7 linked regions of the Homo sapiens genome follow. The protein of the gene in region 1 binds, or shares a complex with, the protein of each later gene. Each region holds a gene or a part of one and is shown on either strand. Other genes may lie near its edges. The genes, in order: TXNL4A, PRPF6, LSM7, SNRNP40, SNRPD1, SNRPD3 and SART1.

Evidence for each region.
Region 2: TXNL4A (region 1) and PRPF6 share a complex: the UniProt entries of both Homo sapiens proteins name them as parts of the U4/U6-U5 tri-snRNP complex.
Region 3: TXNL4A (region 1) and LSM7 share a complex: the UniProt entries of both Homo sapiens proteins name them as parts of the precatalytic spliceosome.
Region 4: TXNL4A (region 1) and SNRNP40 share a complex: the UniProt entries of both Homo sapiens proteins name them as parts of the U4/U6-U5 tri-snRNP complex.
Region 5: TXNL4A (region 1) and SNRPD1 share a complex: the UniProt entries of both Homo sapiens proteins name them as parts of the U4/U6-U5 tri-snRNP complex.
Region 6: TXNL4A (region 1) and SNRPD3 share a complex: the UniProt entries of both Homo sapiens proteins name them as parts of the U4/U6-U5 tri-snRNP complex.
Region 7: TXNL4A (region 1) and SART1 share a complex: the UniProt entries of both Homo sapiens proteins name them as parts of the U4/U6-U5 tri-snRNP complex.

What each region holds. Positions count from the first base shown.
Region 1 is NC_000018.10:79,971,564-79,975,063, reverse strand, and holds part of TXNL4A (thioredoxin-like protein 4A), read left to right. Parts: intron 1-1,207; coding exon 1,208-1,379; 3' UTR 1,380-3,500. UniProt on the Homo sapiens protein: Plays a role in pre-mRNA splicing as component of the U5 snRNP and U4/U6-U5 tri-snRNP complexes that are involved in spliceosome assembly, and as component of the precatalytic spliceosome (spliceosome B complex).
Region 2 is NC_000020.11:64,026,132-64,029,631, forward strand, and holds part of PRPF6 (pre-mRNA-processing factor 6), read left to right. Parts: intron 1-850; coding exon 851-1,027; intron 1,028-1,471; coding exon 1,472-1,605; intron 1,606-2,346; coding exon 2,347-2,438; intron 2,439-3,245; coding exon 3,246-3,360; exon of another isoform or gene 3,361-3,500. UniProt on the Homo sapiens protein: Involved in pre-mRNA splicing as component of the U4/U6-U5 tri-snRNP complex, one of the building blocks of the spliceosome.
Region 3 is NC_000019.10:2,323,304-2,325,586, forward strand, and holds part of LSM7 (U6 snRNA-associated Sm-like protein LSm7), read right to left. Parts: intron 894-2,283; coding exon 822-893; intron 1-821. UniProt on the Homo sapiens protein: Plays a role in pre-mRNA splicing as component of the U4/U6-U5 tri-snRNP complex that is involved in spliceosome assembly, and as component of the precatalytic spliceosome (spliceosome B complex).
Region 4 is NC_000001.11:31,269,289-31,272,788, reverse strand, and holds part of SNRNP40 (U5 small nuclear ribonucleoprotein 40 kDa protein), read left to right. Parts: intron 1-1,289; coding exon 1,290-1,410; intron 1,411-3,500. UniProt on the Homo sapiens protein: Required for pre-mRNA splicing as component of the activated spliceosome. Component of the U5 small nuclear ribonucleoprotein (snRNP) complex and the U4/U6-U5 tri-snRNP complex, building blocks of the spliceosome.
Region 5 is NC_000018.10:21,631,667-21,634,020, forward strand, and holds the end of SNRPD1 (small nuclear ribonucleoprotein Sm D1), read left to right. Parts: 3' UTR 1-1,854; downstream 1,855-2,354. UniProt on the Homo sapiens protein: Plays a role in pre-mRNA splicing as a core component of the spliceosomal U1, U2, U4 and U5 small nuclear ribonucleoproteins (snRNPs), the building blocks of the spliceosome.
Region 6 is NC_000022.11:24,565,999-24,569,498, forward strand, and holds part of SNRPD3 (small nuclear ribonucleoprotein Sm D3), read left to right. Parts: intron 1-1,985; coding exon 1,986-2,178; intron 2,179-3,500. UniProt on the Homo sapiens protein: Plays a role in pre-mRNA splicing as a core component of the spliceosomal U1, U2, U4 and U5 small nuclear ribonucleoproteins (snRNPs), the building blocks of the spliceosome.
Region 7 is NC_000011.10:65,975,234-65,978,733, reverse strand, and holds part of SART1 (U4/U6.U5 tri-snRNP-associated protein 1), read right to left. Parts: intron 2,356-3,500; coding exon of another isoform or gene 2,340-2,355; coding exon 2,166-2,339; intron 2,079-2,165; coding exon 1,968-2,078; intron 1,721-1,967; coding exon 1,633-1,720; intron 1,172-1,632; coding exon 1,081-1,171; intron 971-1,080; coding exon 835-970; intron 135-834; coding exon 45-134; intron 1-44. UniProt on the Homo sapiens protein: Plays a role in mRNA splicing as a component of the U4/U6-U5 tri-snRNP, one of the building blocks of the spliceosome. May also bind to DNA.

The sequences.
Region 1 (3,500 bases):
GCATGTAGGGCCTGCCTGCAGCATGGAGAATGAGAGGGCGGCCAGAGGTGGGCTCCAGACCCTGATCAGATTTGCCTCTCCTGAACCAGAGACTTCACGGGGAATACTTTCTACGGAATAGTAGGTGGAAGCCAAATGCATGATCTTGTGGAAGTGAACGTTAAAAAACAGTCTTTAGGTGGGGTATGCCTGCAGCCCAGCCACTCTGCAGGCCGGGGTGGGACTGGAGCTAGGGGTTTGAGTCCGGCCTTAGCAACATAGCTCGCATCTCTAAGAAAAATAATCAGGCCGGCACAGTGGCTCACGTTTGTAATCCCAGCACTTTGGGAGGCCGAGGTGGGAGGATCACTTGAGGCCATGAGTTTGAGACCAGCCTGGCCAACATGGGGACACCCCATCTTTACAAAAAACTAGAAATTTATCTGGGTGTGGTGGCTCGTGCCTGTGGTCCCAGTTACTTAGAGGGCTGAGGTGGGAGGATCATTTGGGCCAGGAGGTTGATTTTGCCACTATGCCCTAGCCTAGATGACAGTGAGACCCCATCTCAAAAAGAAACTTCAACAAACCAGGATAAATTTATGCCAGTACAACAAAGGGTTAATATCCTTATCTTGTAAAGTGCACATGAGTATTCATGAGGAAAAGAACTAGTCTCTTGAAAGATAAGTAAAGAATTATCTACTTCCCTAACCATAAACATGCAAAATGTCATCTTCATTTCATAGTTGAAGGGCTTTTAATACAATTTATGTCATTGCTCATAAGAGCACTGTGAAAAACTTACACATTGCTTTTATCAGGTAAATTAGTACAAATTAGATGGGGGTCTCATTTTGTTATCCATGTTGATCTCGGACTCCGGGCCTCAAGTGATCCTCCTGCCTCAGCCTCCCATAGAGTTGGGATTACAGGCATGAGCCACTGCGCCTGCCCTCCTTTGACCTTTTAATTTCCCCTTAGAATAACTGTCCTAAATAAATACAGAAAAATGCAGGAAAGAGCATGGTGGACAATGCATTGCATCTTTAAAAACACATTTAGCTGCTTCCTGTATTCTCCTGCATCATGGCATACACTCTCGATTTTATGCGTTCTTCAGTGATGTTAACAAGAGCTTGTCACAGTGGGAAAAATACGGCATTGTTTTCAAGGAATTCTTTTTTAAAGAGACTTCTATGAGAATGGATGCCCTTGTTTCTCGTTGCAGGAACAAGCACATCATGATTGACTTGGGGACTGGCAACAACAACAAGATTAACTGGGCCATGGAGGACAAGCAGGAGATGGTGGACATCATCGAGACGGTGTACCGCGGGGCCCGCAAAGGCCGCGGCCTGGTGGTGTCCCCCAAGGACTACTCCACCAAGTACCGCTACTGAGGCGCCCTCAGTCTGCGCGGATAAATGTCGTGGAGCCCTTTTTGTATGGAAACGTTTTAAGCTATTTAAAGCCTTTGGAAAATACAGGAAGCTCCAGGGCTGGAGCACCTCTGAGATGGAATTGATAACATGGTCTTAACTCACCGAAATAAACAAGCACGTGGTGAGAGGAGCAGGCCTACTTGTTTGTTCTCAGGAAACTTAATGAATAGATTACTGATTTTCCTAGTCAAAGTTAATTCTTACCCTTGGAGTAAAACGAAGGTGTTTATCCTGTGAGCCTGTGCGTTTTGCATACTGGGTTGGTTTGCTGGGGCTGCGGTGACAGCATATGCCGCGAGCTGGGCTTTAACAGAGATGTGTGCTCTCACAGCTTTGCAGGCGGGGGTCTGAGATCAGGGTGTCGCGGGTGGGGGGTCACTGCTGAGGCCGTGAGGGGAATCTGCTCAGGCCTGTCCCTGGCTTCTGGGGGCTGCTGGTGGTATTTTCAGTTCCTTGGTGTGTGGATACTTCGCCCCATCTCTGCCTTCACCTGTGTCCTCCCTGTGTGGGTGCTGGTGTCCAAAATTTCCCCTTTTCGTAGTGACACCAGCTGTGTTGGATTGGGGCCCACCCTGCTCCAGCATGGCCTAATCTTAACTAATTACATTTGCAAGGATCTTATGTCCACAAAAGTCACAGTCTGAGGTGCTGGGGGTTAGGACTTCAATATATAAATTTTGCGGTTACACAATTCAATCCATGACAGAATCCAAAGGTTTACTCTGGTTATAAAAACAGTACAATAAAATATTGTTTATAGCCTTCCCTGTAAGGAATAGGAGAGCTATTTTTTATTCTTCCCAAGATTGTATTTGATGTAAACATATTTTCTGTAGAAGCCATGGCCCTTCAGTTCATATAGTTAGAAAATTTCCTTATTGGCCAGGCACGGTGGCTCACACCTGTAATCCCAGCACTTTGGGAGGCCGAGGTGGGCAGATCACGAAGTCAGGTGTTCGAGACCAGCCTGGCCAACATGGTGAAATCCCGTCTCTACTAAAAATACAAAAATTAGCTGGGCATGGTGGCGCGTGCCTGTAATCCCAGCTACTTGGAAGGCTGAGGCAGGAGAATTGCTTGAACCCGGGAGGTGGAGGTTTCAGTGAGCCGAGATCACACCACTGCACTCCAGCCTGGGCAACAGAGCAAGACTCCGTCTCAAAAAAAGAAAAGAAAATGTCCTTATTACAGTCTCAGGTTTCTCTTGCCCTCTGTCATCCTAGCAGTGTGGATGGTTGGTTGGGATCTTCGTGTCCCGTCTCAGCACACTCGAGCTCTGAAGTGAAAGTGAGGAAGGGCAGGGATGGGGGCACTTGAGCACACCGTGGGCCCTCTGACCTCAGACCCAGGCTCTGCCCCACCAAGTGACCTTGGGCAGGGTACCTTCTCTGAGCTTTGTTTCCTCCTTGGTAAAGGCGGATAATAGTGTCTGCCCTGCACACAGATGTGGACGCAGAAGCACGTGGTGCCTGCCGGGCACAGGAGTGGTGCACAGGGCTCGCTGCTGTCGGGAGATTGATTGCTGTTGTGGAAACGGGAGGGTACTTACAGAATGAAGCACATTTTTTACATACAGTACAAATGAGTGTGTGCTTTTTAAATGGATTTAAAATTCAAATGCAAATCTGCAGTTTAATCTCCCAAGTGCTGATTTTTCTATGTATAAAGTAGGAGAGTGCAACAGCGTATCGGAATGAGGGGCTAGGGAGAACGTGTATGTGACCTCGAGTACCTGGCATGTAACAGACACTCAGTATTACACTCCTGCTATTTCTCCAGAGCAGGTGAAACAGACGGCCAGGAAGCACACGAAGAGACACTCAGCATCACTGCTTGTTAAGGAAGGTGCAAATCAAAACCACAGTGAGACGCCACTTCACACCTACAAGTTCGGCTAGATACAAAAAGATCGCAACAAGCGTTTGCAAGGATGTGGAGAAATTGGAGCCCTCACACACTGCTGGTGGCAAAGTGGTAACACAGGCAGGCAGGTCGTCAAAAAGTTAAACATGGGCCGGGTGCAGGTGTCTCAAGCCTGTAATCCCAGCACTTTGGAAGGCTGAGACAGGCAGATTGCTT
Region 2 (3,500 bases), on another chromosome or scaffold:
GTGGTGATGGGAGTGAGATGACGGCAGGCAAACGAGACCACAGCACACTCATCTTTGTGATGTGACTAAAACATTCATGTGGCCGGGCGTGGTGGCCGGGCGCGGTGGCTCACGCCTGTAATCTCAGCACTTTGGGAGGCCAAGGCGGACAGATCACCTGAGGGTGGGAGTTTGAGACCAGCCTGACCAACATGGAGAAACCCCGTCTCTACTAAAAATACAAAATTAGCCGGGCGTGGTGGTGCGTGCCTGTAATCCCAGCTGCTCGGGAGGCTGAGGCAGGAGAATCGCTTGAACCCCGGGGGTGGAGGTTGCGGTGAGCTGAGATCGCGCCACTGCACTCCAGCCTGGGCAGCAAGAGGGAAACTGTCTCAGCAACAACAACAACAACAAACATGTTCATACGGCCGGGTGTGGTGGCTCACGCCTGTAATCCCAGCACTTTGGGAGGCCAAGGCAGGTAGATTGTGAGATCAGGAGTTCGACACCAGCCTGACCAACTCTGCTAAAAATACAAAATTAGCTGGGTGTGGTGGCTTGCACCTGTAGTTCCAGCTACTTGGGAGGCTGAGGCAGGAGAATGGTGTGAACCCAGCAGGTGGAGCTTGCAGTGAGCCGAGATCGTGCCACTGCACTCCAGCCTGGGTGACAGAGCGAGACTCTATCTCAAAAAAAAACAAAACAAAACAAAAACATATATTTATCCCCACCTTTTGTGTACACAAACAGGCTATGAAAAGCTTACAAAAGTACACACAGTACTGCAGGTAACAGTGTTGAGGATGAGTGTACCATGAAGCACGTACCCTGGAGCTGATGCCCTGCGTGACAGTGCATGTCTGCCCCACAGGTGTTCATGAAGTCTGTGAAGCTGGAGTGGGTGCAAGACAACATCAGGGCAGCCCAAGATCTGTGCGAGGAGGCCCTGCGGCACTATGAGGACTTCCCCAAGCTGTGGATGATGAAGGGGCAGATCGAGGAGCAGAAGGAGATGATGGAGAAGGCGCGGGAAGCCTATAACCAGGGGGTACGTCTCTGCCTGCACCCTGGGGCTGCAGCTGACCCGGCATTCACAAAACTGAGCCCCCTGGTGCAGGGTCATTGCCCTTCGCCTCTGAGGAGATGTGGAGGGCTGGGGGTTACAGCTGATGGAGCTGCAGACTCAGGACCCAAACCCTGGTCCCCTCGCTGAGTTCTGTGCTTTTCCTTATATGAAGCTGCACACACTGCTCAGAAGTGCAGAGTGTGGCACACCTGCAGTAAAGGCTGGTACGTACAGACCTGTGTGCACAGGTCCACAGCACCACCGCACACCTGTACACCCACAAATGCAGAGTGTGAGGGGTGTTTTTCCATGGACATGGCAGCCCTGAGGGACTCGGTCACCCACTGCAGATGAGAAGCTGGGCATGGCTGTGTCCCAGTTCTTCATAGACACCACCTGAGCTGCTCTCTTACTTGTTGGTTGCAGTTGAAGAAGTGTCCCCACTCCACACCCCTGTGGCTTTTGCTCTCTCGGCTGGAGGAGAAGATTGGGCAGCTTACTCGAGCACGGGCCATTTTGGAAAAGTCTCGTCTGAAGAACCCAAAGAACCCTGGGCTGTGGTGAGTCCTGGAGGGGGCAGCCTGGCCTCTGGGCACAGCTTCCCCATCAGGTGGGCCGCCGTCACCCAGCTGCTTGTGTGGAGTCACTCGTGCAGTGCTTCCAGGCTCAGGGGCTTGGGGGGCGGTAGGTGCTGGCCATGAAAAATCACGGTCCCTGCCTTAGGAGAGTTCGGCCTAGGTACTGTGACAGGCCTGTAGATGGTTTGATGCAGTTTAATTTGTGTTCTGATGGAGGGCGCCTGGGAGAGGGAGGGGTTAATGATGGCTGGGACGAGGGAAGGATGGACCCCGGAGAGCCAGCTCCACAGAGGAGGTGGCGTGGAGAGCCCTGGAGGTGGACAGGAGCCTGCTAGGTGCAGGCTCTGTTCATGGAGGTGCTGCGTCCAGCTCAGGGTGACGGGGCTGGAGCACTGTGCAGGCACTGCCGCAGACAGGCAGCTTCTGGGTGCCTTGTGCGGCCCTGGCTCTCCCAGTCTGGTCTTGTTTGTTCTGGATGCCTTCACCTGCATCTGGACAGCGTCAGGATCTGAGGTCTTGCCTTGGGGCGGTTGCCAGTGGGGCTGGCAGGGATGTGGGCCCCAGCGCCTTGTTTCTGTGGTGGATGAGCTCTGCTGTGGAGGGAATGGAGTTTTTGCTGCTGTGACTGGGTGGAGAGCCCTTTCAGACAAGGCTTCCCAGAAGCTACCAGAATATGTGCTGTTGGTAGACGGCTGTGGGACCTCCGGGGGCCTGTCTCCTCAGGTTGGAGTCCGTGCGGCTGGAGTACCGTGCGGGGCTGAAGAACATCGCAAATACACTCATGGCCAAGGCGCTGCAGGAGTGCCCCAACTCCGGTAAGGGGGTGCCCCGACTCCGGTAAGGGGGTGCCCTGACTCCGGTAAGGGGGTGCCTTGACTCCGGTAAGGGGGTGCTTCCTGGCTTCCCAGACTCCGCAGGGCTGGCACTTCCTGAGGGAGTGGGGGCTCAGGCTTCAGACGGACTTTATTAAAATGTGTAGTTTGTGTGAATCATTTCAGTCAAAAGTTTCAGCTATACTCGGCCGTTAAGACAACTTAATGAAATTCTTGGCCTCAAAATGGGAGAATTTGATTTCATTTCTGAAGTGTTATCATTTCTTTTTCTTTTAAAATTTAAAAGAAATTGGCCAGGTGTGGTGGCTCATGCCTGTAATCTCAGCACTTTGAGAGACTGAGGCGGGAGGATTGCTTGAGTCCAGGAGTCCATTGCTTGAGACCAGCCTGGCCAACATGGTGAAACCCCGTCTCTACTAAAATACAAAAATGAGCTGGGCATGGTGGCGGGCGCCTGTAATCCCAGCTACTCGGGAGGCTGAGGCAGGAGAATTGCTTGAGCCCGGGAGTGGGAGGTTGCAGTGAGCTGAGATTGCGCCATTGCACTCCACCCTGAATGACAGAGTGAGACTCTGCAGGGTGTCCAGTCTGTGCCCTCAGGGCTGCCATGGTTTTGGGTGGGCCAGAGTGCTCATCCTTTGTGGTTCTCCTTGCACAAGTTCTGCGAGCCGTGTGTGGGAGGCCCCTGTCGTGGTCTGAGGACGTCCCGGGTTAGAATCTGTAGGCTGGGCACCTTTCCGGAACCAGAGGCTGGAGTGCAAATCTTTGTTCTTTGTTTCTGAATTATAGGTATCCTGTGGTCTGAGGCCATCTTCCTCGAGGCAAGGCCCCAGAGGAGGACCAAGAGCGTGGATGCCCTGAAGAAGTGTGAGCATGACCCCCATGTGCTCCTGGCCGTGGCCAAGTGAGTGGGGCCCCCACAGGATTGCTGAACCTCGGGGTCCTAATGGGCTCTTTTTCCAGAGTCTGTCTGCCTCTTCCTGGTCATTGTAAAGATGCCCGGCAGCAGGGTGGGCTTCCCCGATCCTCGGCTGCCGTCGCTCC
Region 3 (2,283 bases), on another chromosome or scaffold:
ACGGCACGCTCACTACCCCACAGCAAGGCTGCTCTCCGCTGGGCGCCACAGCTCACGCCTGGAACCCCAGCACTGTGGGAGGCTGAAGCAGGAGGATGGCTTGAGCCCAGGAGTTCGAGACCAGCCCGGGCAACACAGTGAGACCTCAGCTTATCTCTTTTTTTTGAGACGGAGTCTCACTCTGTTACTCAGGCTGGAGTGCAGTTGCACCATCTCGGCTCACTGCAACCTCCGCCTCCCAGGTTCAAGCGATTCTCCTGCGTCAGCCTCCCGAGCAGCTGGGATTACAGGCATGCGCCACCACACCCAGCAATTTTTTTGCATTTTTAGCGGAGACGGGGTTTCACCATGTTGGTCAGGCTGGTCTCAAACTCCTGACCTCAAGAGATCCTCCTGCCTTGGCCTCCCAAAGCGCTGGGATTATAGGTGTGAGCCATTGTGCCTGGCCTCTCACGTCACCAATTTAACAAAAATTAAAATAATAAAACATTTAAAAAGGTTGTCCTCTAACTGTGCCGGGCGCCCCGTCAGTGTGTAGAGACCAGTGGGTGAGCTGGCAGCTCCCGTCTCTCCAGGCCCCACAACAATGGGGTTTCCTGCTTTGTGAGGACGTCTAGGACCAGTGAGCGCTCAAGCCCGTCCATCGGCCGCCACGAGGCTTCACGTTGGTAACTCAGAGGTTTTGTGGGTTTGAGAGAAGAAGAGCCAGCAGGGAGCCCCACGGCTGCCCCCCTCGTCCCACTGCCCCCCTCGTCCCGCTGCCCCCCTCACCCCACTATCCCCCTCGTCCCGCTGCCTGCCTCGGCCGCCACCCCACTCACCTCGCATGTACTCAATGGTGCCGTCCAGCACAAGGTTGAGGAGTGGGTCGAAGCCCTTCAGGATTCCACTGGCTTGGAGAAATCACCGGGGGAGAGAAAAGAGAAGGCATGAGATCCGTCCTGGGCGCAGGGCCCGCCCCAGCATGGCCCAGGTATGGGGCTAACTGCTCCAGGGATGGAGGACTGAGGGTAGGAGAGGGCTCCCGGGAGTGGCCGATGACAGCCGCCTCCAGAGTGATCTCCACCACAGGCAGCAGACCACGTCTGCGGGGGGCCAGATGGCAAACACTTCTGGCCGTGTGGGCCACAGGGTGCCGGTCACAGCTGCTGGCTCGGGCTGCCTGGGTGGAGGCAGCTTCGGTAATGAGTCCATGTGTGGCTGAACTGCGGCCGGTCAGCTCTACTCACAGGCACTGAACTGTGAATTTCATGTAATTTCCACATCGTGAGACAGTCTTGTTTTGATCCCTTTCTAGCTATTTAAAAGTCATAAAAACAATTCTCAGCTCAAAAGCAGCAGCAAAACAGGCGGCGGCACGTGTACGCGGTGGGACCACCAGCCAGGAAGAGGAGCGAGGCTGGCGCAGGCCACAGCGCGGATGCGCCTGAGGACGCACCTGAGGACGTCACGCTCAGTGAGAGACGCCAGACACAGAAGGCTGCGCACCGTGAGATCCCATTTCTATGAAATGTCCAGGACAGGCCAATCCACAAAGACAGGGAAGGGATGCGTGGGTGCCAGGGCCAGGGATGGGACAGGCAGTGATGGCTGATGGGGACAGGGCTTCCTGTAGGGGAGACAGAGTGCTCCGCTCTGACAGCGGTGATGACTGCGCTGCCTGACCTGTGCTGAGTCCCTCAGTGAGTTCACGGAATACAAAAGAACAAATCCCAGCCCTGCTGCTTAGGGCTTGCGGGGAGCAGGCAACAGAGATGCTCTGAGACCCAGGTGCAAAGGCTTCGGGGGCTGAGACGGTCTCTGTGGCTTCTCTCTCCACGCTGCCTGCCCCACCCCTCAAGCTTCGCCGCCTTGGGCCACAACTTGCCAACTTAGGTTAGGGCTCTCTGACCCGGTGGTGATCTCTGCCATCTGATCCTGCTCCGCAGTGTCTGGTGACACTGAGAAGGGTGAAGGGGGAGCTGTGTGTCCCCAGCAGAGGCCAGCCCACCCTCTCTGCCTGGGACTCCCCTCCACTGCCCTGCAGGCTCCTGCAGCCGAGGCCCAGCAGCAGCTCCACCTCTGCGCTCACTGAGGGGCGTCCCGCAGCCACCCCCTCCCTGCTCTCCTTCTTACCCCTGTCATCTTTCAGGTGCTTCCTCCAGACACCAACCCACAGCCCTTACGGTGCTGCCCTCTGCACGCCCACGCCAATCTCAGGAAGCAGGCACCACCAATCTCGGGAAGCAGGCACCACCAATCTCGGGAAGCAGGCACCCCGGGCATTATTCTGCCTGCCTGTCT
Region 4 (3,500 bases), on another chromosome or scaffold:
GTAAAGATAAATACTGTTTTGTATTTTCCTTTTTTGCTTAATAGCTTATTATGTAAATATTTTTACATTTGGTCTTCTGAGTTATTTTTAGGAACTGCTTAACAATAGCTACACATTATTGAGGACCTGTCTTGTGCCCGGCATATGCTAAGCATTCTTATAATCCTTACAACAGCCGTAAGAAGTAGCTATTGTTATCCCTAATCTTACAGACCAGGAAACAGGCCCAGAAAGAATTAGTGACCCAATGACACATAACTCTAAGTGGCAAGGAACAGTTTATTCTTACCCTAAGTCACCACTCTTTCTACTCTGTCATGCTATCTCCTGTATGAGAATTCAGTTTTGCAATGTGCTTATGAACCATAATTTAATAAACCACCTATTTTTCCTGCTTGACGTTTAGGTTATTTTCTGTATCTTACGTTTCCTATACAAGCAATAGTGAACCTGTAATTTATTTTTATTTTAATAAATGTGCTTTTCCATAGTGTATGTGCATGTACATATCCATACATGTACATATATATACATTTATTGTCACATATTGTTACATTAAAAGAAAAATTTTAAGCATCTGTATTTTTCATATTGTTACACAAACATGTAATCATAATGCCTTTTTTAAATGACATGTTCGTTTTATGTATTTATAATAATTTTTAATGGCTAAGAATCATAGCCATTTTTAGTTTTTTTCTATAATAGTTTTTCTTTGCTATGATTTGAAAATAACCTTTCTGAATTCTATTTTTTTGTGTGTAAAACTTTATCTTAACATTTGATATGCATTCGTTTATATTTATCTAGTCAAACGTGGTAGCCTGAGCTACCTTTTTAGAAAGACAGAGATTGGCCAGGCATAGTGGCTCATGCGTGTTAATCCAAATACTGAGAGGATGAGGTGGGAGGATTGCTTGAGCTCGGGAGTTCAAGACTAGCCTGGGCAACATGGTGAAACCTGTCTCTTCAGAAAAATTAGCTGGGTATAGTAGCATGCTCCTGTAGTCCCAGCTACTGGGGAGGCTTAGATGGGAGAATCACCTGAGCCCGGGAAGTCAAGGCTACAGCGAGCCATGATAGTGCCACTGCACTGGGCAACAGAGTGAGACGCTGTCTCAAAAAAAAAATGAAAATTAAAAAAAGGTGTTTTTCTCTTTGACAGAAATCCTGTGTTTTATAGTAGAGTAATATCAGTGTCTCTGGGCAATTGACTCTTGTCTCTTGTGTCATTCTCTTTCTCTGCTTTTATTAATTTGATTTCTGGGGGCACCTTTCTGTTTTTGCAGGTCTGGGACCTGCGCCAGAACAAGCTAACCTACACCATGAGAGGCCATGCAGATTCAGTGACTGGCCTGAGTTTAAGTTCTGAAGGCTCTTATCTTTTGTCCAATGCAATGGACAATACAGGTAACTTTGGAAAGGAAATCTCTCCCAGGATCCAAGGAAAAAGTCAAAGATTGCTCACAGATTCCATCAGACGATTAGAATGTGTTGTAATGGGGAAAGCTTTAGGTGAGATAGTCAAGAATCTAGGACTGTAGTCTCAGATCTCTGTCTTGTCCCTGAACAACTTTGCACACAGCATTTCTTCTCTCTAGGCATCAGTTTCTACATTGATAAGAAGATTGGACTTTACCTTTAAGACCCATCTCAGCTCTGGTATGCTGTGTATCCAACAGGATATTAGAAACTCTAGGTGATGAGTTTAATGAAAAAGATGTGAATCTAGAAGTCTATTCAAGGCAGTTCTTGTGCGTTTTCAGAGAGCACCAAGCTTGGATGATCTCTTCTGCTCTTTCCTGCCAGTCTGTCTTCCCTCCCCACTCTGAAAGCATTGGTGTGGGAAGAGGTCTTCATTAAAACATTCTGGATTTACACGAACACACTCTTGCTCTTTCTCTTTACTTGTTTTTGAGTTGTAGGGTGGGAGGATGGGTTACTACAGAAAAAAAGTAAGGTGACTTGCTGGATTATATGCTTAATGTTGAGGGAGTTTGGAAATGGCCCTGGTATACAAAATTATAGGCTTGTCAGGAACTAAAATGTATTCCCTGACATTTTGTAACAAAAACAATACCTGACATTCATTGGGTACTTAATAAATATTTGTTGAATTAATGGACATCTTTACCTTTTAACTATATTCTCAATGGCAAACTTTCACGCATAGCTTTGCCTTTTTATGCCTGTCTGACTCCAAGGATTGATAATACTTTTTTCATACTCAAATAAAATGACATCACTGAAATTCCACTATAGGTATAGCTTCAGTTACAACGGCTATAGCTACTGCTTACAATAGATGTTTATACACATTTAATCTAGCATTAAAAAAATATTTTTTCCTTAATTTTTTTGATAAGACAGGATCTTGCTGTGTTGCCCAGGCTGGTCTCAAACTCCTGGGCCCAGGCAAGCCTCCCAAGTACCATGCCTAGCTAATTCTAGCGTTCTTTATGAGGAACAATGAGGTTTCCTAGATTGATACTAAAATAAGGAAAAAATAATAGAATAATTTCTTGTGGCTGCATAATACAATTACAAATTCTTTATTTTTGTTTGTTGCCTACAAATTTTAGAACCTTTGCACATATATCATCTCATTGGATCTTTAAAATAGTGTTATTGGCTGGGCAGGGTAGATCACCTGAGGTCAGGAGTTTGAGACCAGCCTGGCCAATGTGGTGAAACCCCATCTCTACTAAAAATACAAAAATTAGCCAGGTGTGGTGGTGGGCACCTGTAATCCCAGCTACTTGGGAGGCTGAGGCAGGAGAATCACTTGAATCTGGGAGGCGGAGGTTGCAGTGAGCCGAGATCACGCCACTGCACTCCAGGCTAGGCAACAAGAGCGAAACTCCATCTCAATCATATCAGTCAATAATATTATTTTAAAAAGAAGACAGATAATTTTCTCTTCATTTTACAGAACAGAAAAACCAAGACACAAACAATCTCACTGTTTACCTGACATCACCCAAATATGTAACAGAGATAGAATCAATGTTTACTTTTTCTGATTTTTGGTATGGTACAGTGCTTTTTTGATTTATTTGACCTTTTATATATTTTATATATATCTGACCTTGTCCAGTCTTAGACTATCAGGTGCCCATATGAGGGAAATTAGGAAAGGGCGATGTAAGTTTGGCTTTTATAAGTTCATTGTCACAGTAGTTCCTGGTATTTAGTTTGTCACATTGAAGCTTTGCTGGATGTGACTAAGCTGGCAGAGAAATCTTGCAAAATATCTTTTTGAAATTAGTATCACACCCAACTGCATTCTGTTGCAAATTACCAACATTGTGTGTGACATTTTTCCTTCCTGCCCCCTCAGCTAGCCCCAGTTATTGGGATTTAGATGTGTTTTCCTGCTTGAAAAAGAAAAGAGCCTTAACAGGTAGCAGTATGTCAAGTTGGACTTTGCCCACCGAGGAAACAGCATCTGCCATTGATTGACATGATACTAATTTCAGCTGGGTGCCCAGGAGGCCTCT
Region 5 (2,354 bases), about 58 Mb from region 1:
CATGATCTGCACGAGGCCTCCCAATGTGCTGGGATTACAGGCGTGAGCCACCGTGCGTCCCCGGCCTATACCTTTCATTAATTAATAAGCTGGGGGAATAAATAACTGGATTTCATTCTTTTCCATCTTCTGACCTGTTGGTGCTCCTATTGCTTGTATCCAAGTAGAAGGCAAAAGGCAAGAGACCCCTGTAATGCAGCAAGTGGAGAGATTTGTTGAAGGGGTCAAACAAAACCCTGCAAGAGTAGGAAATAAACAGTTGGCTCCTGTCCTCGTGGAGCTTATAGACAGAAGCAGATAACAAATAAAAATTGGAGCTTAGTGCCGTGGTGCACACTTGTAGTCCCTGCTACTGGGGAGGCTAAGGCAAGAGGATCGCTATAGCCTGGGAATTTGAAGCTGTAGCGTGCTATGATTGCAAGCAGCCTGGGTAACCTAGTGAGACCTGGCTCTTAAATTTAAAATTTAAATGAAAATGGCCACTTAGCATAAGAGATCTAAAATTACGTTTTGTCCTGGCATGGTGGCTCATGCCTGTGACCTCAGCACTTTGGGAGGCCGAGATGGGCGAATCACTTGAGGTCAGGAGTTCGAGACCAGCCTGGGTAACATGGTGAAACCCTGTCTACTGAAAATACAAAAATTAGCTTGGTGTGGTGGCGGGTGCCTGTAATCTCAGTTACTCAGGAGGCTTAGGCAGGAGAATCACTTGAACCCTGGAGGCAGAGGTTGCAGTGAGCTGAGATCACACCACTGCACTTCAGCCTGAGTGACAGAGCGAGACTGTTTCAAAAAAAAAAAAAAAATTTGTTTTGAGAGTTTTTGTGTCTAGGATGTTTGCAGTGTGAAGCCAGTCTAGTAACAGTTTAAATGTAATAATAAATCACAGTGGGTACTAGATTGAGTTTATTCCACTAGAGGTCATTATTTCATTTCCATGTGAAAGGGCTAAAATTGGGTGAAGAAAAAGCTATTTGAACTGATTACCATCATTTGCTATAAAGGAAGCATTATAGTATGAATAGAAAACAGACTAGAGTTTAACATGCTTCTCTTGACCCCTCTTCACCACCCCCTAAAAGGCAGATGGGATCTTAGGACTGCAGCATTTTGTACACATCTGATATTTAATGAGATGTTACATATGAACTTTAGTTTTTTTTCTTTTCTTTTCTTTTCTTTTCTTTTCTTTTTTTTTTTTTGAGACAGAGTCTAGCTCTGTCACCCAGGCTGGAGTGCAGTGGTGCAATCTCGGCTCACTGCAAACTCTGCCTCCCGGGTTCACGCCATTCTCCTGCCTCAGCCTCCTGAGTAGCTGAGACTACAGGTGCCCACCACTATGCCCGGCTAATGTTTTGTACTTTTAGTAGAGACGGGGTTTCACTGTGTTAGCCAGGATGGTCTGAATCTCCTGACCTCGTGATTCGCCCGCCTCGGCCTCCCAAAGTGCTGGGATTACAGGCGTGAGCCACCGCGTCCGGCCGAACATTAGTTTTTAAAGAAATGTATTATGAATATAGATAGAAAACCCAAAGTGAAGGAATAGAAAATGAAATATCAGTTTCTTTTAATCTATCATAATTATGTGAGCATAACTTAGTATTTTGAAATAGATTAATGTAGTCAGCAAACAATTCATGTATTACCTATAATAGATATCATACATATAACATTTAATAACATACAGTTCTTGTTCCTGAAGACTTAACCTAGAAAATAACTCCATAACAAGAAGAATCTCTGTCATAATAAACCAACAGCAGACATTTTCTAAAGGCATTAAAAGTATATCTGATACTGGCCTTTATTAATGTGAAATTCTTGTGGATCTGTGAAATAAAGAGGAGTACTTTCTTTTCGTTTTTTTTTCTTTTCTTTTTTTTTGAGACAGTCTCACTCCTTCATCAAGGCTGGAGTACAGTGGTGCGATCTTGGCTCACTGCAACCTCTGTGTCCCGGGTTCAAGCAATTCTCGTGCCTCAGCCTCCCGAGTAGCTGGGATTACAGGCATGCACCACCACACCCAGCTAATCTTTGTATTTTTAGTAGAGACAGGGTTTCACCATTTTGGCCAGGCTGGTCTCTAATGCCAGACCTCAAGCGATCTGCCTGCCTCAGGCTTCCAAAGTGCTGAGATTACAGGTGTGAGCCACTGCGCCCAGCCAATAGGAGTACTTTTGAAAAGGAAGATAAATTTTTTTTTTTTGAGACGTAGTCTTGCTCTGTCACCCAGGCTGGAGTGTAGTGGTGCAATCTCAGTCCACTGCAAGCTCCACCTCCCGGGTTCATGCCATTCTCCTGCCTCAGCCTCCCGAGTAGCTGGGACTACAGGCACCCACCACCACGCCTGGCTA
Region 6 (3,500 bases), on another chromosome or scaffold:
AGTTTCTGTCTTGGGTAGTCTGACCATAAACCTGGCGTTCATTTGTGGCACTAGAGGTTATGGTATTCTTCAGGGGAAGAAAAGGATTGGTAAGGACTTGGGAACTGGATGAAAATTTAATAACAGGCTGGGAGTGAGGAGCCTGGAGCAGAAGGTTTATGAGAAACTGGAGCCCTGTTGCCCCTGAAGGTAGAACAGGGATAGTGGGTAGAAGCTCTAGAAACCATTCCTCTAGAAACTGCTCATATACAACAGGGGCGGCCCCAGAGCATAGTTTTGTTTGTTTTATTTTTGAGAGGATCTTGCTCTGTGGCCCAGGCTAGGGTGCAGTGGCTCCATCACAGCTCCCTGCAGCCTCGACCTCCCAGAACCAAGTGATCCTTTCACCTCAGCTTCCCGAGTAGCTGGACTACAGGCACATGCCACCACACCCAGCTAATTTTTGTAGAGATGAGGTCTCACTGTGTTGCCCAGGCTGGTCTCAAACTCCTGGGCTCAAGTGATCCTCCCACCTTGACCTCCCAAAGTGTTGATATTACAGACATGAGCCACCACACCTGGCCCATAGTTGTTCTTTTCTGAGTGTTCAAGCAGAGGCTGGGTGGCCAGTTAGCACTTGAGGAAAAGAATGAATGAGTATAAGATGGCAGCTAGCCAGACAGAAATCTGCAGAGACAGCACATCTTTCTACAATAAGGGCTGACCCATTCTAAATAAATTATAGTTCTCTCTCTTCAGAAGGTTCATACAATAAGCTGCTTTTTCTGTAAATGTGGTGCTTGTTGAGGTTGATGCTGGCAGATTGGTATCACCCTCCCATGCCAAGCTGGTCTCACCTTCAGGCTCCCCATTTGTCCATCCTGCAGTCTATCCTTGTTGCCACATTTATCTTTCCTGAGTGCTGCCTTAACCCTATTGATCTTTCCTCTATCGACAAACTTGACTGACTCCTTTATCTGAAGTAACGACCCCGTCCAGTGTCATTATTCGACTGCTCTGGTCCTCACATCCTGTAGGCTCCTGCCCAAGTGCCTGCTCTTTTCCTTGTGCAAGCTCTTGCCTCATAACCCTCCAGTAATTTCAGGCCCTTTTTACAGGCCTTGTGGTACCACCTCCATTTCTCAGTCCCTAGTCACTCAACCTAGAGGGTTCTGTCTCACCTTCTAGAGTATGCACTCTGGAGGGTCAGAACCACATCTGGTATATACTTGTGACCTTCATGGTGCCTTTGAAATCTGAGTGCCAGGCAGTGCAGGGGAAGACAGTTTGGACCAGCAGTTTGAAGCTGTTTTCGTTAGGGTTTAGCACCTTCAAGAGCTCTTCACATCTTTGCTCAGCAGGCAGTGCAGCACAGCCAGGGCTCTGAAGCTAGGCCAGCTGGTTCGAATCTGGAGTTCCCTGCATTCCAGCTGTTTGACCTGGGATAACTGCTTTGGTTTTTTTAACATGTAAAGATGGGAGCACTCGGCTGGGCGCAGTGGCTCACACCTGTAATCCCAACACTTTGGGAGGCTGAAGCGGGCAGATCACCTGAGGTCAGGAGTTCGAGACCAGCCTGTCCAACCTGGTGAAACCCCACCTCTACTAAAAATACAAAATTAGCCGGGCATGGTGGCGCATGCCTGTAATCCCAGCTACTCAGGAGGCTGAGGCAGGAGAATCGCTTGAACCCGGGAGGCAGAGGTCACGGTTAGCCGAGATTGCACCATTGCACTTCAGCCTGGGCAACAAGAGTGAAACTCCATCTCAAAAAAAAAAGGGGGGGAGCACTCATACCCACGCTGAAGGTGTTGTGAGGACTGTTTAGGTAAAGTGCTCAGTGCAGTCCCTGGTGTACACAGTTAGTACCGATGATTGCTGGGTAATTCACCAGCTTTGTCACAATGTCAGTCTGCTTTTCTGGACTTCCCCCTCCCACCAGTCAAGGCCCTCCCCACCGCTGGTGCTGTTGACCGTTAACTTATTAGCTGGTGATTTCCTTCCAGATGTCCAACATCACAGTCACATACAGAGATGGCCGAGTGGCACAGCTGGAGCAGGTATACATCCGTGGCAGCAAAATCCGCTTTCTGATTTTGCCTGACATGCTGAAGAACGCACCCATGTTAAAGAGCATGAAAAATAAAAACCAAGGCTCAGGGGCTGGCCGAGGAAAAGCTGCTATTCTCAAGGCCCAAGGTAGGTGCTTTTCATGCACAGGTTTTAAAATATAGGTTTGTCTTGTGTCTTGTAGAAAGGGGCCCTATTACTGCCTGGAGACAGAGAGGGTTTGACCTCTGCTCTCTCCACACCCACCACCCACTGCCACCCCTTCCCCTTGCAGCGTGGAGTGATCCTGTGAGGCCATTATTTTATTTTTTTGAGACAGAGTCTCGCTTTGTCACCCAGGCTGGAGTGCGATGGTGTGATCTCAGCTCACTGCAACCTCTGCCTCCCAGGTTCAAGCAATTCTCCTGCCTCAGCCTTTCAAGTAGCTGAGATTACAGTGCGCACTGCCCTGCCTAGCTAATTTTTTTATTTTTAATTTATTTTTATTTTTATTTTATTTTTAATTTTTTTTAATTTTTTTATTTTTTTGAGATGGAGTCTCGCTCTGTCGCCCAGGCTGGAGTGCAGTGGCGTGATCTCGGCTCACTGCAACCTCCGCCTCCCGGGTTCAAGCAGTTCTCTGCCTCAGACTCCTAAGTAGCTGGGATTACAGGCACCCGCCACTGCGCCGGGCTACTTTTTGTATTTTTAGTAGAAACGGGGTTTCACCACCTTGGCTAGGCTGGTCTTGAACTCATGACCTTGTGATCCACCTGCCTCAGCCTCCCAAAGTGCTGGGATTACAGGCGTGAGCCACTGCGCCCGGCTTATTTTTATTTTATTTATTTATTTTTGTATTTTTAGTAGAGATGGGATTTCACCATGTTGGTCAGGCTGGTCTTGAAGTCCTGACCTCACATGATCCACCTGCCTCGGCCCCCTGAAATGCTGGGATTACCAGTGTGAGCCACCGCACCTGGAGAGGCCCATCTTTTCTAGAAGTTCTGTGTGAGAGGTGTGGGATCGCTTGCCCTTGTCTAGTTTGCCGAGCAGACACAGCCCGGAGCAGATGAGCTGACTCGAGTGTGAGGGCAGCATTTCCTAGCGAGACTGGGTCTTATGGATGGACACCAGCATGTACTTAGGGAGGTCTGATAGTGGAGCTCCGTTTTCAGAAATAAAGCCACCTTTTAGTACATTCCAAAAGTGGGACTGTCCTTTTCGCAGTCCCCTAGTCTGGTCTTGCTTCTTGGTTAGCCTAATTTGGTTTTATATTTAGGTTCATGAAAGTTCTGTCATGTTGATTAGACAACAAAGTAATTGTGGCCCTTGGAAACTGTCTTAGTGTTGGTAAAAAAGGTTTGCAGCCAAGGAAGGCACTGGATTCTTCATTGGTATCTTTAGCTGCTGTACATGTTTTATATGTGTGTGAGGAAAAAAGTCAAACTGTGTTTTTCCTCTGCTCTCACAAC
Region 7 (3,500 bases), on another chromosome or scaffold:
GCCCCGGCAGGCACAGGGCCCCCCACATCCCCAAGGGCACCCACCGCCTCCTCGTCCAGCTTCTTCATCCGCCGCTCTGTCTTCATCTTGCCTGAGCCCTTGCCATGGAAGCGGTGCGACAGCTGCCGGAAAGCCTGGGGACGCGGGGCATGAGAGGAGATGCAGGGCCCTGGGTGGGGCCGGAGCCACCTGTGCCCACAAGGTGTATAATAACAGGGCGGGTGTTGATTGACCCCAATGCCAGGCCTGGGGTGCAGTGGGAAGGGGATGGGAAAAGAGCACAGACGCTGGCACCCTGCAGGGCCCCAGCAGAGGCCGGGAGACCAGCTTGGCTAGTGGATGCGCTGCCATGGGGGCAGAGCATGGGGAACCTGGAGACCTGCCACGCAGGGGCTGGGCCTGGACGCTGGGGCTGGGGCTGGGGCTGCAGGGAGACAAACCCCAGAGAGCAAGGGGGCAGCTGAGTGGTAGGGCAGGACGGTCGGGCGGCCTACGAGAGTGCTGGAAGGGCCTGGACGCTGGAATGGCCCTGCGGGCCAGGAAAGCCAGTGAAGGGCTCACGCAGGTGAGGACAGGAGGGCAGAGGTCCCGAGTGCCTGTCTGACCCTCCTGCCAGGCTTGCAAAGAGACTGCTGTGCCCACTAGAGACAAACTGAGGCACAGCCTTCCTCAGCCCTGAGGGCCCCCTCCCCATCCGTGGCATTCACCAGGCCCCCAGCCAGAGGCTGGTGGAGCCAGGACCCTGGGGCATTGCATGGCCCGGGGCATTGCATGGCCCTGGGCTTGGCCTCCCTGTGGCAGGCCGGGCCTCCGCCTGCAAAAGGCCCTGCTCACCTCCTTGGGTGTGAGTTTCCGGCCCGTCTCATCCACGTATTCGATCTTAACGTCGGGTTTGTAGCCGTCCTTCTCCTTGAAGTCCTGTGTGAAGCCTCGGTATTCCTCCCTCCGGCTGTACTTGTCATCGATGGCCCTGGCCCGAGACAGAGGAGGCCTTAGTGTGAGGAGCTGCCGCCTGCTGTGGTCCCGAAGCTCCAAGCTGGCACAGGCCCCTCAGCCCTGCACAGGCCCCACCACACTCACATCTTATCCTCGATGCAGTACACGGCTGAGGGCAGCGACTTGTTGGGGGCCTTCACCCGGGCCACCTTCTGCACTGTGGTCTCCAGCAGCCCTAGGGATGGAGGGGTTGTGAGACTCCCAACCCCTCGAGAGCCACAGCTCCAGGGCCGCCTGAGAAGGCAGAGCAGGCCCTGTGGGGGCACCTCCCTTTCCTTGCCTCTGGAAAGCCATCAGGCCTGTTCTACAGGCAAAGCAAAGATGCAGAAATGAGCCCCTTGCCAAGGGTCACTGGCCAGGGAAATGGCAGAGCTGGGGTCCTAACACCAGGGCTCTCTGTGCCACAGCTGGAACAGTTTCAACTCCCCTCTCCTTCCCCAAGCAGGTGTGGAGCCTCAAAGGCAGAGCAGACGGACAGATGCCACAGTGGAGGGGAAGGAGTGGCTCTGGGCCGGACAGCTGGCTCCAGCATTGGGACTGAGAGAAAGGGGCAGCAGAGGGGACCGGAGGGGGCCCTGCCTGCACCTGCAGCAGCACCCAAGCCCACCCAAGTCATGGCTGCCCTGAGCTCCCTACCTTTGTTCTGACACAGGAGCAGGGCAGCTGCCAGCCCCCTATTCACGATCGGTTCCTCGTCCAGGATGGTGGTGGAGGAAGCAGAGAACTACGGGACACGTGGCGGGGGTGGTTAGCAGGCCATACCGGCTCTTCTCAGCCCCACCCACTGGTCACCACCTGCCAGGCACCAGCCCTCCACAACATTTAATTTCCTCATTTACTCCTCAGATCGCCCTGGGAGGTCTGCAGAGCCCACTCTGGATGAGGAGGCTGAGGCTCTGGACACCGAGCCCGGTGCTCATCTCCAGCTTGAGCACCCCCAAACGCCCACCCCCCAGCGGCGCGGCCCTCACATCCTGCTGCTGCTTCTCCTCGTCCAGGTTCACCGTGCTCCAGCCGATGTTCTCCTCCCCGTCAGATTCGGAGCCACCGTTGGCTGAGCGCTCCTCATCCCGTTCAAAGTCCTGGGGCACAAAAGACCAGGGTCGGCCCAGGCCCCAGCCAGCCCACCCAGCCGAGGGAAGCAGAGGGCGGGGCCGCCCCAGACGCACCATGAGCTCCTCCTGCTCCTCGCGATTGCCAGCCAGCCCGTAGGTGGGGATCTCCCCCAAGGTGCGGCAGAACTCGGACGTGGCGTTGAACACGATGGCCCCCTTCCGCTCGGGATCCTCATCCTCCTCCCAGCCCCGCTGGCGAGACTCCAGCTTCTTCACAATCTCCACCACCTGGGGGAGGGAGCGGCTGTGGGCAAACCCAGCAGTTTCTGGGGTGATGCCATTGAGACCCAGGAACCTAAGGGTCCTCCCTGGCAGCAGCCAGACAGGCCACGCCCACAGCCCATGCAGGCCCAGCTGCTATCTGCCGCCTAACTCCACTCTGCACCTCTTTCACTGGGGTCACTCTTCTGCTCCAAACCCATCAATGGGTTTGGATGCCCTTTGAATGAATACCCAACATCCTACAGGGCCTTCCTGACCAGGCCTGTGCCAATCCCCCTCCAAAGCCCCTCACACACTACCTCAGCCTCAAACTCCTTCCTCCAGGCTCCCTCCTGCCACCTGCCCCTCCCCCGACAAACTCCGGTTTCAGGACTCTAGACAGCACTTCTAGAACCCGCAGGGTGGTGAGGTGGCCCACGCTTTTGACTTCCCACAGCCCAGCTTCTCGCTTCCTGCTTCACCAAGAAAGCAGGTTCCGTGACATGGGAAGAGAACTCACTCATGCTGCCAGCACTGAATCCAGCGACCCCCACACGGGCACCAGCACCCTCTGCTTTCCCTCCTGTCGCAGATGCCCAGCCACACACAATGATTACCATCTCCCCTCTTTAAAAAACTTCTCCCTCAACCCTGCAGCCCAGACAGCAAAGTCCTCACTCCTCAGTGAAGGTTCGAGTCACTATGTCCACTTCTGCACCCCTCTTTCATTTTATATTACATTCATTTTTTTAAAAAAATCTTCTGAGGCGGGTGGACTGCTTGAGTTCCGGAGATCGAGACCAGCCTGGGCAACATACCCAAATCCCATCTCTACAAAAAACATAAAAATTAGACATTGTGGTCACACACGCCCATAGTCCCAGCTACTGGGGAGGCTGAGGTGGGAGTACTGCTTGAGCTTGGGAGATCAAGGCTGCCAAGATCACACCACTGCACTCAAAAGAGTGGGCAAGAGTGAAACCCCGTCTCGAAAAAAAAAAAAAAAAAAAATTCTTCCAGGGGCCGGGTGGTTGCTCACATCTATAATCCTAGCACTTTGGGAGGCCGAGGCTGGAGGATCACTTGAGCCCAGGAGTTCGAGACCAGCCTGGACAATAAGGTGAAGCACAGTCTCTACAAAAAACACAAAGATCAACCAGGCATGGTGGTGTATGCCTGTAGTCTCAG